Linked DNA regions of Homo sapiens: all the other regions are linked to region 1. Evidence: fine-mapped expression QTL. A gene starts in region 1. Each other region holds a variant in brackets. All regions are shown on one strand. Distances are from middle to middle. Region 1 holds the start of C5 (complement C5). Region 2 overlaps CNTRL (centriolin). Region 3 overlaps C5 (complement C5).

Region 1 (2,500 bases):
TTATATATTAAGGTAAAAATAGTACTAAAAAAGAGAAGGTAGTAAATAAAAAAATTCTAATGAACATAAAACATCATAAAAATTAACTTAATTAAAAATCAGCCAGGCACAGTGGCTCATGCCTGTAATCCCAGTACTTTGGGAGGCCAAGGTGGGTGGATCACCTGAGGTCAGGAGTTCGAGACCAGCCTGGCCAACACGGTGAAACCCTACCTCTACTAAAAATACAAAAAATTAGCTGGATGTGATGGGACATGCCTGTAGTCCCAGCTACTTGGGAGGCTGAGGCAGGAGAATGCCTTGAACCTGGGAGGCAGAGGTTGCCCTGAGCCAAGATAGTGCCACTAGACTCCAGCCTGGGCGACAGAAAGAGACTCTGTCTCCAAAAAAAAAAAAAAAAGTATAAAGATAAAATTTTAGTATATTGTGAATTAATTACTAGACTCAATTGTTATAGGAAGCTTTGTTTTTCTGGAGCTCTTATATTAAAATTATTAAAATCCTCACTGAAAAGTATAACATGTGTTTTCTTTAAAAGAAAGATATTCTATATCTGAATAAAGACAAACTTTGAACGAGTGGTATATGCCTTAATAAATATTGGAGAATATCTATTCTCCAATACTTAGAGAATGACGACAGCATCCTCCACATGGCGTTTTCATTGCCAGTCACAACTTTCCTCCACCTAGTGTTCTCTAGACTGAGACAGACCAAGGAACAATTCCCTAGACCTCCTTTGCAGAGCTAGGTTATGCTCAGACCATTTGCAGCACCAAGGACACTGCCATTCAGGTCACCAAAAAAAGATCATCTTGTGAGCCCTGTCTAAACCAGGCCCCTTCTAAAATCATTTCAGTGTGAAACTGAGTCCAGGTGGGTCTTCATCAGTATTAGAGTGGACCTGCCAGATGTATGCTTGCAGATGATGCAACATCAAAGCAAATGCCCTGGGCAAGAGAAGAAAGGCCAAAGCAATGGGCTTACTGGTTTCTAGCTTTGAGCCACTCTTCATAGTGCCAAATTCCCATTTTAGGGTCCCTTTATTTGTATTAATAAAAATAAATTCCCTGGGTGTAAGTTCCTGTAAAGTACTCCCTATCTGTATTCCTGGGCATGAAAGGGTGTTTTAGTTCCAATTCTAGTTTTCCCACTTAGAGGTTCACCTTTCTGACATTAATAATTAACCAGATTATCTGAATTCTTCAAGTTCAGTTTATTTAAAAGGAGACTATCCTCAAAAGTGTTATATCCGTGGTTTCCTGCTACCTCCAACCATGGGCCTTTTGGGAATACTTTGTTTTTTAATCTTCCTGGGGAAAACCTGGGGACAGGAGCAAACGTAAGTAAAACAAGCTATCTTCATTTTTCAATGCATCTTAGTTATGACGAATGAAGAGTTAAATTTAACAGATTCTGTTAACTTGAAAATAACTTGCTACTTCTGAGAACAGCAAGTGAATAGTATCATCTCTGAATGAGAAAGTCATGGAAGCATTTTGATTTGATGAGTAGCTAACAACATGACAGCTTTTATGGAATTGTTATTTATTAAAATTTACGTTAAGTGATTATTCAAATTCCTCTTCAAAAAAGCACAAAAGAAACTCCAGATAATAAACTTTCTTGACATTTTTTGCTTATTTTAACTTGGTGTTTAGTTTTCTTTGTGTTTTTCATAGACTATACACAGTTAAACCAGGGTTATTTAGGAGTCAATCTAATACTGTGATCTGAAAATCTGTTGTTGTAGTGACTTCTACCATACATTTATGAGCTGACTTTTCACAATTTTTAGTGTCATTATTGAGATAATATGCATTTTAAGTAATGTTTTAAAAATAATGATCTTATATCTAGAAATATTTTAATACTGAAAAGTAACTGCAGATCATCTAATCAAACCTATTCATTTTATATATGAGAATAAGTCCAGATAAGGGAAGTGACTGACCAAAGGTCACAGTTCTAGAGAGAGAGAAACAGGATTTTTATTAAGGTCTCCTGTTTATCACTTCAATTTTTTTCATTTTGTCATAAATGTATACATGTAAATATATTATATATAAACACATACTTAGGATGTCATTCTTTTTTAGCACCCTCGTATTTCTGATCTGTGATCTTTTTACATGGCCACAAGCACTCAACTACCTTAGCATCCTGCCTTTATTCTTTTTGAAAGACGAGCAGCTAAGGCTTAGAGAGACTGAAATTAAGTGACTTCAAATTGGTGGCAGAACTAGGGCTAGGACCTGGGTTCCATGATTCTTGTCCAGACTTATTCTGAATTCTTTCTACTAGCCCTTAATAAAAATTATTTCCTCACTTTCTCTGAAGAAGTCAGAGTGTACCATTTACAACATGGCAATCAATCACTTTAATTAATTGGTTGATTGATTGATTCAACAAATATTTATTGAGCATCTAAACATATGATAGGCACTGCAGATATAGCAAACGGTAAGACAATTCCTAGAGCTTGCATTCTAGTGGGAGA
Region 2 (2,861 bases), 57 kb before region 1:
AGGTATTATAAGTAATCTAGCAATGATTTTAAAGTATACTAGAGGATGTACGAAAGTCACTTGCAAATACTACACCATTTTACATAAAGGACTTGAGCATCCATGGATTTTGGTATCCATGGGGGTGTCCTGGAACCAATCCCCCACAGATACAGAGGAATAACTGTATACAGTAACATTCCTTTTTTCATTACAAAAATATTCAAAGGTATAACATGCTTAATTATATATACATTATGTAATTACATGTATACTGTATAAGAAGCATGGAAAACAAAGTATTAATATCTGGGGAATGGGGTAGGGAAGAGTGGACTTTCATTTCTGCTAAATACAGTTGTGTTGTCTAAATTTGTTACAATGAACATACATTAATTTTGTATATAAATGTGTTTTTATTTTATTTTTATTTTTGTAGAGACAGGGTCTCATTATGTTGCCCAGGCTGATGTTGAATTTCTGACCTCAAGTGATCCTTGCACCTCAGCATCCCAAAGTGTTGGGATTAAAGGCATGAGCGATGGCGCCTGGCATAAACATGTTTTTAAATGGTTAATGATAAAAATAACATAATGACATAGAGAAGAGCACAGTCTGACTTCTAACAAAAATAGGTATAGAAAAAAAAAGCAAAAACTTCTGACAGTTTACAAAACATTTATTGACAGCACAAACATATCAATAACATTATAAATAAGCAAAAGAGAAAACTAGGCAACTACAGTTCATAGTTTTGGGATAGTGGAAAGTCTTAAGGTCTGACATTTTGCCAAGGTTTTCAATGGGCTGAGTAACGTGCACCAGGGAATCAGCATAAAGATATTATATTTTATCTTAGTAATAAAAGATGGATTCCATGTCCAAAAAGACCTATAACTCACAAAATTTTGGATAATTTTGCCAGATCGCCTTCTAAATGTTTTTGCCAATGAACAGCCTCACCTACAATGTTGTTTTTAAAAAATACAAATATCTAGGAGTACATAATGCAGCTCAAGACAGCATTAGTCTTTTGGGAAGCCATATCATCTAGCACACAGTCAACTACAATTCATAAGCCTTTCCACATATTTCTGTTAAACCACATCTTCCCCATTATATGGTCAGGAAGTTGTATTTTTAGACC[C/T]AAGGGCAAAGAATTATCTGTCTTATGAGAATACAGCCAAAGCAATGTAAAATATGAACTTACCAATTCATTTTTTGTGTTTAAGTCACTCTTGAGTTCCTCACAGCTCTGTTTCTGTAACATGGCCTCCTCTTTTAATGATTTATTCAATTTATCTTGATTTTTAATTTCCTCAAGGAACCTTGTTTGTTTGCTCTTAAGCTCTTCAGTTTCTATCATCTTTTTTTCTAGGTCTCTTTCCAGTCTTTCTACCTCTTCTGCCAATGAAAATTTAATAGTTTATTTATCATTATATTTCCTATTTTTAAAAAGGTAAGAATATTTCTCAAACAATAGTGAAAAAAGTCTAAAAATATTGTAAATACAATTCTACTTTTAAAATTAGCCACCATGGTTTTGGAAAAAAAGACTATCCTGATCTTGAAATTGAGGCAAGAAGGCATCATTTCAATGATATTTTTAAAAGATAATACTTTACTTCCAAGTATTTAATCCAATTAGTGTGCTGATAAATGAGTTCTTTTCTAGGTGACCTTTGAAAAACATGCAATATTTTATCAGACATTAGTAATTACATTTAAAAGGATGCTGCAAACATGTTTGCAAAATTCTGTATTATCTTAAAATCCTTCAACAGCTTCCTGTTACTCTTAGGATAAGATCCAAAAGGCTTGCGAAAAGCTGATAAAGTTCTTCATAATTTGGACTCAACCTCCCTCTTCTGCCTCATCTTCAAGCATACTCTACTGCAGCTTTCTTAAAGTTATCCCATTTCTTCAGATTTGTGATGCCTCTTCTCACCTATAGGCTTTTATTCACACACTTTCCCTAGAACTGTCTTCCTCTACCTCCTACTGGGCTATTTTGCATCCTACAGGTCTTAAGTTTTAAAAAAAAATTTTGAGAAGCCTGCCCAGGCCCTATCCTGTCACCAGGTTAGATGATTCTGAGGTATACTCCCATGCTACCCTGAAATTCTGCTTGGCCCTTGTCACACAGGGAGTAGTAAAATGTGATCAAATAGCTTAGCTGTCTGCCTTTCCCCACTAAAGCGTCACAAAAGCAGAAACTACATCTACCTGGCTCACCTAGACTAGATCTAATAGCCTAGCACATTAAAGTCTCCTAATTAATATCTGAAGGCATGAAGGAACCATAAGTAGTCTAACCATTTCACCCAAAAGTTATCTAGATGACTTTCCTTTGCATTATTAATATTTTTAATGATTCCAAAACATAAACTTCAGAATAATAAATATTGAGTTAGGGAGATTCCAAACTAATAAAAACTTGCCATGTTTCTCAAGTTGGATCAAACCATATGAAATTGCCATTTTTGGAGGTCAAAACAGACTAAAACTAATTTCAAATGAACAGACAGGCTCATTTCCCAACACTCTAAATTGGCTATTTGATACCTTCCTCTTTCTTCTCAAACTTCCCATACACTTTCTTCTATTTTCTCTCTCACCTGATTATCTCACCTTTAATTAAGAAAATGACCCCATCAATAAGAACTCCCTATTTTCCCACCACCACAGCAACAAAACTACCCACACCTGCACATATCTTTGCTCCTTTCTGAAGGAGAAAGTGTCACTCCTACCAAGGGATTTTTCCTTTTTTTCTCTAATCTCATTCTCATGTCTTCTCCAGAACCAAAAGAATTGAGCCATGTCTTGTTTCTCCACTTTGCTTTTAGGTTTTTTTTTTTTTTTTTTGGACGGAGTCTCGC
Region 3 (2,500 bases), 37 kb after region 1:
AAGAATATCAAACTGGGAGTCAGCAAATTGAGTTCAACTAATATCATGCCTATGGTAATATAATAGTTTCTTCCATTTGTATATGAGTTATTTTAATTCTAACCTTTATTCTAAGTTCTAATGATATGAAAAGAGAGACATTGACTAATCTGAGCACTTACAATGAAGGATAATGCTACTAGGTGAAGTCCACAAACCATGTTATATAAGAAGTTTTTGAAAAATAGGATATTCAGCTTGAAGAAGGAAATATTTGTATAGTGATGATAGCCATCTTCAAATATTTGAAGGCTTCTTGGATATTTAACTTATTTTCTTAAAAAACATTTTCTATTCTTTTTCTATATTTTTCTGCATATTTTCAGCAGAACCCAAAGTTCCAGTTTCAAGAGTTAGTATTTAGCTTAATTGCAGGAAACCCTTTAACCATTTAGTGTGAGCTGGAATGGACCATTTGGTAAGGTCACATTCTCCCCATTCTTAGAATAGTTCCAAGGGGAGTCTGGACAGTCAACTAGCCATAACTATTGTGGGTAGGGGGATCATATAGCAACAGAAACCAGGTATCCCTTGAGATTCCTTCTAAGCCTGAGATGTTATCACTCTGCGTCATCAAGAGCACTTGCATTATTACCATTTCAGCTGCTAAATATAAACATTCAGTAGTGAAGAAATGTTGTTACGATGGAGCCTGCGTTAATAATGATGAAACCTGTGAGCAGCGAGCTGCACGGATTAGTTTAGGGCCAAGATGCATCAAAGCTTTCACTGAATGTTGTGTCGTCGCAAGCCAGCTCCGTGCTAATATCTCTCATAAAGACATGCAATTGGGAAGGCTACGTAAGTATGACATTTTCTATCAGAATTCTGCTCAATATGGGGAATTTTGTGTAATTTTATGCTGCTAAGAAAGGCAGTTTTCATGATCTATTTAGAATTGAAAGTAGAAAAGATAACTTGTAAATGTCCATAAGAAAAAAAAATCCTTCATTTTTGGGCATCCGAAGAGGTACAGTACAGAGCAGAGTACACTAGGCCAGAGTTAAGACCTGGCATAACCTTAAAGCCAAGTCATCCCATAAACTTGAATGATTATTTATCCTCTCTGAGCCTCATGCAAGGAGCTTCGACCAGATCCTCTCCAATATGCCTGTGAGTTCTACAAGTCTACGCTTTTGTGATATTACAACCATTAAAAATTCTGTCTATATCTACATTGATGAAATAAAGCAGAATATTTCTAAATCTAGCCTAAGGTTAAGTGTACTTATATAAAAGCTGATGTCTTATTTCAGTTTCAACCACAATACATGTTTCCAGAATTTATAGAACTCTCATTAACATGTTTTCAGAACTTTTAGGACTTTATATATAGTCTTTTTTTTTTTTTTTTTCAGTAGGAATCTGGCTCTGTCACCCAGGCTGGAGTGCAGTGGTGCAATCTTGGCTTACTGCAACCTCTGCCTCTGGGTTCAAG[C/T]GATTCTCCTGCCTCAGCCTCCTGAGTAACTGGGATTAAAGGCGCCTGCCACCACACCTGGTTAATTTTTGTATTTTTAGTAGGGACAGGGTTTCACCATATTGGCCAGGCTGGTCTTGAACTCCTGACCTCAGGTGATCCGTCCACCTCGGCCTCCCAAAGTGCTGAGATTACAGGCGTGAGCCACTGTGCCCAGCCTATGTATAGTCTTTAACAAAACAAGCAAAAGCAAAATGACAGCTTCTGTTTTATACTTATGTGTGCTGCGTAATGACATTTTCATCAATGATGGACCACATGTGCAACGGTGATCCTATAGGATTATAATACCGTATTTTTTCTGTACCTTTCCTGTGTTTAGATATGCTTAGATACACAAATACTTATCATTGCATTACAGTTGTCTGCAGTATTCTGTTCAGTAACATGCTGTACAGGTTTGTAGCCTAGGAGAAATAGGCTATACTATATAGTCTAGATCTGTAGTAAGTTATACCATCTAGATTAGTGTAAGTACGCTCCATGATGGTTACACAACAAAATCATCTAACAACATATTTCTCAGAACATAGCCCTATTGTTAAGCAATATCTAATAACCATAATTTTGGTAAATGGCCACAAAATTTATGTTTGTAGAAATATATTCATTGAGATGTACAGTGTCTAAGATTCAGATTGTTTTCCAATATTTGTTTTGCTTTGTTTGTTTGTTTGTTTGAGAGACAGAGTTTTGTTTTTGTTGCCCAGGCTGGAGTGCAATGGCGCAGTCTCAGCTCACTGCAACCTCCGCCTCCCGGGTTCAAGCAATTCTCCTGCCTCAGCCTCCCAAGTAGCTGGGATTACATGCACCTGCCACCATGCCTGGCTAATAATATTTGCTTATTATAAGCAGAATTTTAATAAACAGTCTAGTCCATATGTTGTTTTTCTTTTTGGAGGGAGGATTTGGCTTTTTTTTCTCTTAATTTTTTTTAATTTTTAAATTTATGTGGGTAAATAGTATTTACGGGGTACACGAGAT

The links. PIP is the estimated chance that this variant, and not a neighbour inherited with it, causes the effect. A credible set is the group of variants that fine-mapping cannot tell apart.
Region 2: its variant is the best candidate, but not a certain one, in a credible set for the expression of C5 in monocytes (Fairfax 2014, PIP 0.60).
Region 3: its variant is the best candidate, but not a certain one, in a credible set for the expression of C5 in whole blood (INTERVAL, PIP 0.68).

What each region holds. Positions count from the first base shown.
Region 1 is chr9:121,049,024-121,051,523 of GRCh38, reverse strand. It overlaps C5 (complement C5), which reads left to right and starts at 1,249. Exons shown (of 41, transcript NM_001735.3): 1 at 1,249-1,342. The coding sequence starts at 1,278.
Region 2 is chr9:121,106,324-121,109,184 of GRCh38, reverse strand. It overlaps CNTRL (centriolin), which reads right to left. Exons shown (of 44, transcript NM_007018.6): 8 at 1,190-1,383. Among named protein-coding and RNA genes, the nearest start is that of CNTRL, 33 kb to the right of the region's middle. The variant C/T (reference allele first, on the strand shown) is at 1,127.
Region 3 is chr9:121,012,213-121,014,712 of GRCh38, reverse strand. C5 (complement C5) reads left to right here. Exons shown (of 41, transcript NM_001735.3): 17 at 643-840. Among named protein-coding and RNA genes, the nearest start is that of C5, 37 kb to the left of the region's middle. The variant C/T (reference allele first, on the strand shown) is at 1,478.